Homo sapiens: one gene and its partner. The protein of the gene in region 1 purifies or fractionates together with the protein of each later gene. This does not show direct contact. Each region holds a gene or a part of one and is shown in the gene's direction. Other genes may lie near its edges.

Region 1 (3,654 bases):
TAGATAACAATTAGGGTCAAGGGTGAACAGTTCAAGCAGTGTTAGTTAATGAGATTTTATGTTTTGTTTTCTTTTGTTTTTTTTTTTGAGATGGTCGCTCTGTCTCCCACGCTGGAGTGCAGTGGCACGATCTCGGCTCACTGCAACCTCCACCTCCTGGGTTCAAACGATACTCCTACTTCAGCCTCCTGAGTAGCTGGGATTACAGGTGCGCACCACCACACCCAGCTAATTTTTGTATTTTTAGTAGAGACGGAGTTTTGCCATGTTGGCCAGGCTGGTCTCGAACTCCTGACCTCAGATGATCCACCCACCTCCGCCTCTCAAAGTGCTGGGATTACGGGCATAAGCCACTGCGCCCAGCCGTTAATGAGATTTTAAAAGAAGTTATACAGATTGTTGGTAGTCACTTATGTACTTGGACTTGTCAATAACTGTCATAGTGAAAATGTGGTTTTTAAGAGTAGTAGCTACTTATGGGGGTGTAGAAAGAATGGCCTCTCTCTTAGACAATTTCATTTTAAACATCATAGTCATCTTTTGCATAGTGATTGACTCCTATCTTTGTGGTTTCATGTATTTCTTTGTGATTGATTCCCCAGTGCCTGCCTGCAGTCCATTGCAACTCTCCCAAACTTTAATCCTGCAGCTTCAGCCCACTGCTAGATATTTCCATTGATGACCTGTCATCTGAAACCTAGCATTCATCATGTGCTGTGTTGTATAATTGTATGTCTGTGTTATTGTATTACTTTCCCAAGTAAAGTTTTTGTGTAAGGACTTAACACTGCTTTGAATCCCCTGTACCTATTATACTGCTGTGTACAAAGTAGGAGTTCAAATACATGTGATCACAATAGTCTTCATGACTAAAGTAGCTCTTCGCTTTTTTGGTAACCGCAGAAGCCTAGAAATCATCCAGAGTTCAGATACAGTTGCAAGCTCTATAGAACCAAAACACAGCAAAAAGGTACTGTTTTATACCTTGTAAAAATGAAGTCAGTATATTTGAAAATTGTCATTTGCTCCTTGTAGAAGAAAAGACTTTACCTTTTTGATGAATGACTTAAATATATTTATTTAAAATTAAATCCATTCTAACTTTTGGAGGTAATGGATATATTTATAACCTTGGTCATGGCGGTGACCATGCATATACTTGAGTATATGCATATGTGCAAAAGTATACATAAATATATATAAAATTATAGCATGTATTTTTGCTGTTTGTCTTAAATTGATTTTCTGTATGTTAGGCTTGCTTTTATTCCTCCTTTGTCTACACTTTGTCTTCTATGATTTTTTTCTAATTTTTCTCTTGTAATACTTCTGGTTCTTAAAGTGTTTTACTTTATTTTAACAGCATATTTAAAATTATTTTATTATTTATTTATTTTTTGAGACTGAGTCTTACTCTGTCGTCCAGGCTGGTATGCAGTGGCACAAACACGTCTCATTGCAGCCTCAACCTCCCAGGTTCAAGCGATCCTTACATCTCAGACCACAGGCATGTGTCACCACACCCAACTAATTTTTTTTCCTTTCTTTTTTTTTTTAATAGAGATGAGGTCTCGCTATGTTGGACAGGCTGCTCTGGAACTCCTGGGCCCAAGCGATCCTCCCACCTCAGCCTTGCAAAATGCTGGAATTACAGGCATGATAATTTTTTTTTTTTTTTTTTTTTTTTTAGAGAGACGGGGTCTCGCCACATTGCCTAGGCTGGTCTTGAACTCCTAGGCTCAAGCAGTCCTCCTGCCTCTGCCTCACAAAGTGCTGAGATTACAGGCGTGAGCTACTTTGCCCGGCCTTAATTTATTTTAATTGTCTTGAGGTCACTAATACAGACTTGAGGTCAAAGACCAAGATGTATTTGTCTTTATATTGACAATATGTTTAGCACAGTCTCTGGCAAAAAGCCAGTTAGTGGCACATCATTCAGGTCTCCCCAGATGGAGACCAGTGCTTCTTTTTCATTACAGTGTGGAGGCCCTAGTCATATTCTCATTATACATTAAAAACTTTAATGATGATTGACTCTTCGGTTACCATTTTAATAAGTCTTGATTATGAGTCTAAGCTTTTCAAAAACATCTTTCATTGAATAACTATATGCAAAGAATATATATTTATATACTTATGTTGCTGCTTTGTATAAAATAGGCATGGATCAGAATTAATGTCCTCTGATTCTATATTTGCCATTAGTCTTTTTTCTTTTTTTTTCTTTTGAGATGGAGTCTGACTATCTCCCAGGCTGGAGTAGTGCAGTGGCACCATCTCGGCTCACTGCAACCTCCACCTCCCAGGTTCAAGCGATTCTCCTGCCTCAGTGTCCCGAGTAACTACAGGCACAGGCCACCACACCCAGCTAATTTTTGTATTTTTAGTAGAGACAGGGTTTCACCATGTTGGCCAGGCTGGTCTCGAACTCCTGACCTCAGGTGATCCACCTGCCTTGGCCTCCCGAAGTGCTGGGATTACAGGCATGAGCCACCACGCCGGGCTGCCATTAGTCTTATATTAAAGGAAGCCCTCTTAGCACAGCCAGCAGCACGTCAGTCTCATAAACTAACTTTTAATCGATGTGGAAAATATATTGTAGTATTTAAAATGTAGTCTGAACAAATTTTGCTTTCCTTCCCCACACCCTCCTTATTTTTATAAAGTTACCAGGCAGTGACATTGCCAGTGGGAGTGATGTACTTTCTGATGTCATACCCAGTATTCCAAGTTCACCTTGCCTGCTTCCTAAAAAGAAAAACAAGCACCGGAATTTAGATGAACTCCCTTGGAGTGCAATGACAAATGATGAGCAGGTAAAGATCTTGACATTCTTAATTAAAAGCTTTTATGTGGAGACTAGGTAAAGCTCAGTTTATTGCCTGTTTAAAGCTACTGGGGAAATGTGGATTGCTTAGTAAATCTGAATTTGAGCTTTAACGGTTTTTCAGGGAACAAATATAACCTTAAGTGCTTCTGCTATGTAAACACATTATAATTGACATAATAAAGGATCAGAAGTTTTAGCAATGATCTTATTGTAATTTTTTCATCACATAGGTGGAATATATTGAGTATCTGAGTCGGAAAGTGAGTACTGAGATGGGTCTTCGGGAGCAACTTGATATTATTAAGATCATTGATCCTTCTGCTCAAATCTCCCCTACAGACAGTGAGTTTATTATTGAACTTAACTGTCTCACAGATGAAAAACTGAAGCAGGTATGTAAAGAAAATACAGATTATTTACCTATTAAAAATACCACCATCTTATAAAATGTAGACTAAAATAATCATGTGTAAATACATAGATAATTAAGGCCAAAATCACTGCTGCGAAAGGTAATATTAGAAAAAATGATGGCACATTGATTTAAGAGGTTTTATGTACATCTCACCTGCCAGTACCTTTCTGGGATCAATGTGAATCTAGAACCTGCTTTTCAGTTGTATAGGATTTGAAATTTAATGTCACCATTTACGGAGTGGTTAGGTTAAGGTATAGATTTATTCTAACTCAGTTTACAGGAGACTAATTGACAATCAAAATACTAATTAATGAGAGCTATTCTTTGATAAACAGCTGAGGGATTTGAGTAGTTTTATGCAGTAATAATTGAGCCAGGCTAGGGTGAAACCTAGTGAATTTTCCCT
Region 2 (3,654 bases), on another chromosome or scaffold:
CTCCCAAGTAGCTGGGACCACAGGTGTGCACCACCACATCTGGCTAATTTTTTTTTTTTTTGGTAGATGGGGGTCTCACTATGTTGTCCAGGCTGATCTCTAACTCCTGGCTCAAGTGATTCTCCCATCCTGGCCTCCCAAAGTACGTAAATATGATATCATATATATCATATAATTGATGAACCAATATATCATATATGATGATGATCAGAATTGGTGAGCCAATATGTTACTAACTAAAGTTTACACTTCATCAAAATTGGTAATTTTTGTTCTTCAAAGGACACCAAGAACTTGAAAAGATAATTCACCAAGTGGAAGAACGACTTGCAAATCCTGTGTCTGGTGGGGCATCTTATCCAGAAGCAGCCTGAGTCTCAGTCCCCTCCATCACACTCCATCAGGGTGGGGGCTGAATTGGCAGCCAGGACTCCCAGGTATCCTGTCCCATCACTGTAGGAGGCAGTCTACCTCCTGGACCTCTCTCTGGGCAGTTGTGCACCTGCAATCCTGGATCTCACCCAGATCATGGGGTGACAACAGGGAGTGGCCATCCAGAGAGAAATCTGAGCCTGGTGTTTTGGGTTTGTGGGTGGGAGGTACTCTCAGGACACCCTCCCCCTCCATGGATTCAGACTTGGGTGGGCCCAGCAGAATGGCATGTGTGGTTCCCAGCTCCTTCATCCCCAGTGGGAGGGAGCCTGTCATCCCCTATGCATTTCAGATAAATGAACCAGGGTCTCAAGTTTACAGCCTTGTTCCCTGTTAAAGAGAGATTGCACTGGAAACTTGTTAAGAATGTCAAGGAAAAGTTTATTAAGCACAATTGCAGTGAGTCATGACAGCTGTAATAGGGGAGGGAGATTGAATTCAGCCTTGAATGCAGCAGGAATATTATTGGATTTATAGCCAATGTACAAGGTGAGGGAGAGAATGGAACTTGGTTGGGTCTCATAGGTGGGAGAAAAAGAACTTGATTGGATATTAAGGTAGGAGGAGTCTCTATAAACTACCTTAGATGGATTCTTGCTGAAACTGACTTCTGCAGGCCAGTGCCAAGCCCTAGTCAAAAAGAGGGCTCTGAGGAGCTTGACTCAAGTTTGGTGAAGGAAGGAGTACTTGAGACCTCTTCAGCCTAGTTTTTCTTTCTTTCTTTTTTTTTTTTTTTTTTTTTGAGATGGAGTCTTGCTCTGTCACCCAGGCTGGAGTGCAGTGGTGCGATCATGGCTCACTGCAACCTCTGCCTCCCAGGTTCAAGCAATTCTCTGCCTCAGCCTCCCAAGTAGCTGGGGTTACAGGTGCCCACCACCAGGCCTGACTAATTTTTTTTTGTATTTTTAGTAGAGACAAGGTTTCACCATCTTGGCCAGGGTGGTCTTGAACTCCTGACCTCATGAGCCACCGTGCCCAGCCTCTTCAGCCTAGTTTTTCCCAGGGCTCTGTATTAGTCTGTTTTCATGCTGCTAATAAAGACATACCCAAGACTGGGTAATTTATAAAGGAAAGAGATTTCATTGACAGGTCAGTATGGCTGGGGAGGCCTCAGGAAACTTACAAGTATGGTGGAAGGGAAGCAAACATGTCCTTCTTCACATGGCAGCAGCAAGGAGAAGTGCAGACTAAAGGTGGGGGAAAGGTGGGGGAAGCCCATTATAAAACCAGATCTCATGAGAACTCACTATTATGAGAACAACATGGAGGTAACCACCCCAATGATTAAATTATCTCCCACTTGCTCTCTCCCATGACATTCAGGGATTATGGGAACTACAAGAGGAGATTTGGGTGGGGACACAGCCAAACCATATCATTCCACCCCCAGCCCCTCCCAAATCTCATATCCTCACATTTTAAAACAATCATGCCCTCCCAACAGTCCCCCAAAGTCTTAAATCATTCCAGCATTAACTCAAAAGTACAAGTCCAAACTCATCTGAGACAAGGCAAGTCCCTTCTGCCTATGAGCCTGTAAAATCAAAAACAAGTTAGCTACTTCCTAGATACAGTCATTGGGTAAATATACCCATTCCAAATGGGAGAAATTGGCCAAAACAAAGGGGCTAGAGGCCCTATGCAAGTCCCAAATCCAGTAGGGCAGTAATTAAATCTTAAAGCTTTGACATAATCTCCTTGGCCAGGCGCGGTGGCTCACACCTGTAATCCCAGCACTTTGGGAGGCCGAGGCAAGCGGATCATGAGGTCAGGAGATCAAGACCATCCTGGCTAACATGGTGAAACCCTGTCTGTATTAAAAATACAAAAAATTAGGCATGGTGGCACGCGCCTGTAATCCCAGCTACTCGGGAGGCTGAGGCAGGAGAATTGCTTGATCCCAGAAGGCGGAGGTTCCAGTGAGCCGAGATCATGCCACTGCACTCCAGTCTGGGTGATAGAGCCAGACTCTGTCTCAAAAAAAAAAAAGAAAGAAAAAAAGAATCTCCTTTGACTCCACGTCTCACATCCAGGTCATGCTGATGCAAGAGGTGGGCTCCCTCAACCTTGGGCACCTCTGCCCCTGTGGCTTTGCAAGGTACAGCCCCCACTCCTGGCTGCTTTCACAGCTGGCACTGAGTGTCTGTGGCTTTTCCAGGTGCGTGGTGCAAACTGTCAGTGGATTGACCATTCTGGGGTTCTTGAGGACGGATGGTGGCCCTCTCCTCACAGCTCTACTAGGCAGTGCCACAGTGGGGACTCTCTGTGGGGGCTCCAGTTCCCACATTTCTCTTCTGCGCTGCCCTAGCAGAGGTTCTCCATGAGGGCTCCGCCCCTGTAGCACACCTCTGCCTGGACACCCAGGCGTTTTTGTACATCTTCTGAAATCTCGGCAGAGGTTCCCAAACCTCAATTCTTGTCTTCTGTGCACCCACAGGACCAACACCACATGGCAGCTGCTGTGGCTTGGGGCTTGCACCCTCCGAAGCCATGACCCGAATTGTACCTTGCCTCCTTTTAGCAATGGCTGGAGTGGCTGGGCACAGGGAACCAAGTCCCTAGGGTGCATACAGCAAGGGGCCCTGGACCAGGCCCAGGAAACCAACCATTTTTTCCTTTTAGGATTCTAGGCCTGTGATGGGAGGGGCTGCCATGAAGGTCTGTGATGTGTCCTGGAGACATTTTCTCCATTGTCTTGGTGATTAACATTTGGCTTCTCGTTACTCACAAATTTCTGTAGCTGGTTTGAATTTCTCCCCAGAAAATGGGTTTTTCTTTTCTTTTCTTTTTTTTTGAGACAGAGTTTCACTCTTGTTGCCCAGGCTGGAGTGCAATGGCGCAATCTTGGCTCACTACAACCTCCACCTCCCAGGATCAAGCGATTCTCCTGCCTCAGCCTCCCGAGTAGCTGGGATTACAGGCATGTGCCACCACGGCCAGCTAATTCTATATATTTAGTAGAGAAGGGGTTTCTCTATGTTGCTCAGGCTGCTCTCAAACTCCTGACCTCAGGTTATCCGCCTGCCTCAGCCTCCCAAGGTGCTGGATTACAGGCATGAGCCACCACGCCTGGCTGGGTTTTTTTTTCTGTTCCATTGTCAGGCTGCAATTTTTCCAAACTTTAATGTTCTGTCACCTCTTGAATGCTTTGCCGCTTAGCAGTTTCTTCCACCAGATACCGTAAGTCATCTCTCACAAGTTCAAAGTTCCACAGATCTCTAG

What was found.
Region 2: the proteins of FAM199X (region 1) and ZNF627 purify together in Homo sapiens (co-immunoprecipitation; one large-scale study listed by IntAct). This does not show direct contact.

What each region holds. Positions count from the first base shown.
Region 1 is NC_000023.11:104,183,400-104,187,053, forward strand, and holds part of FAM199X (protein FAM199X), read left to right. Parts: intron 1-2,666; coding exon 2,667-2,816; intron 2,817-3,060; coding exon 3,061-3,222; intron 3,223-3,654.
Region 2 is NC_000019.10:11,603,928-11,607,581, forward strand, and holds part of ZNF627 (zinc finger protein 627), read left to right. Parts: intron 1-282; exon of another isoform or gene 283-437; intron 438-3,654. UniProt on the Homo sapiens protein: May be involved in transcriptional regulation.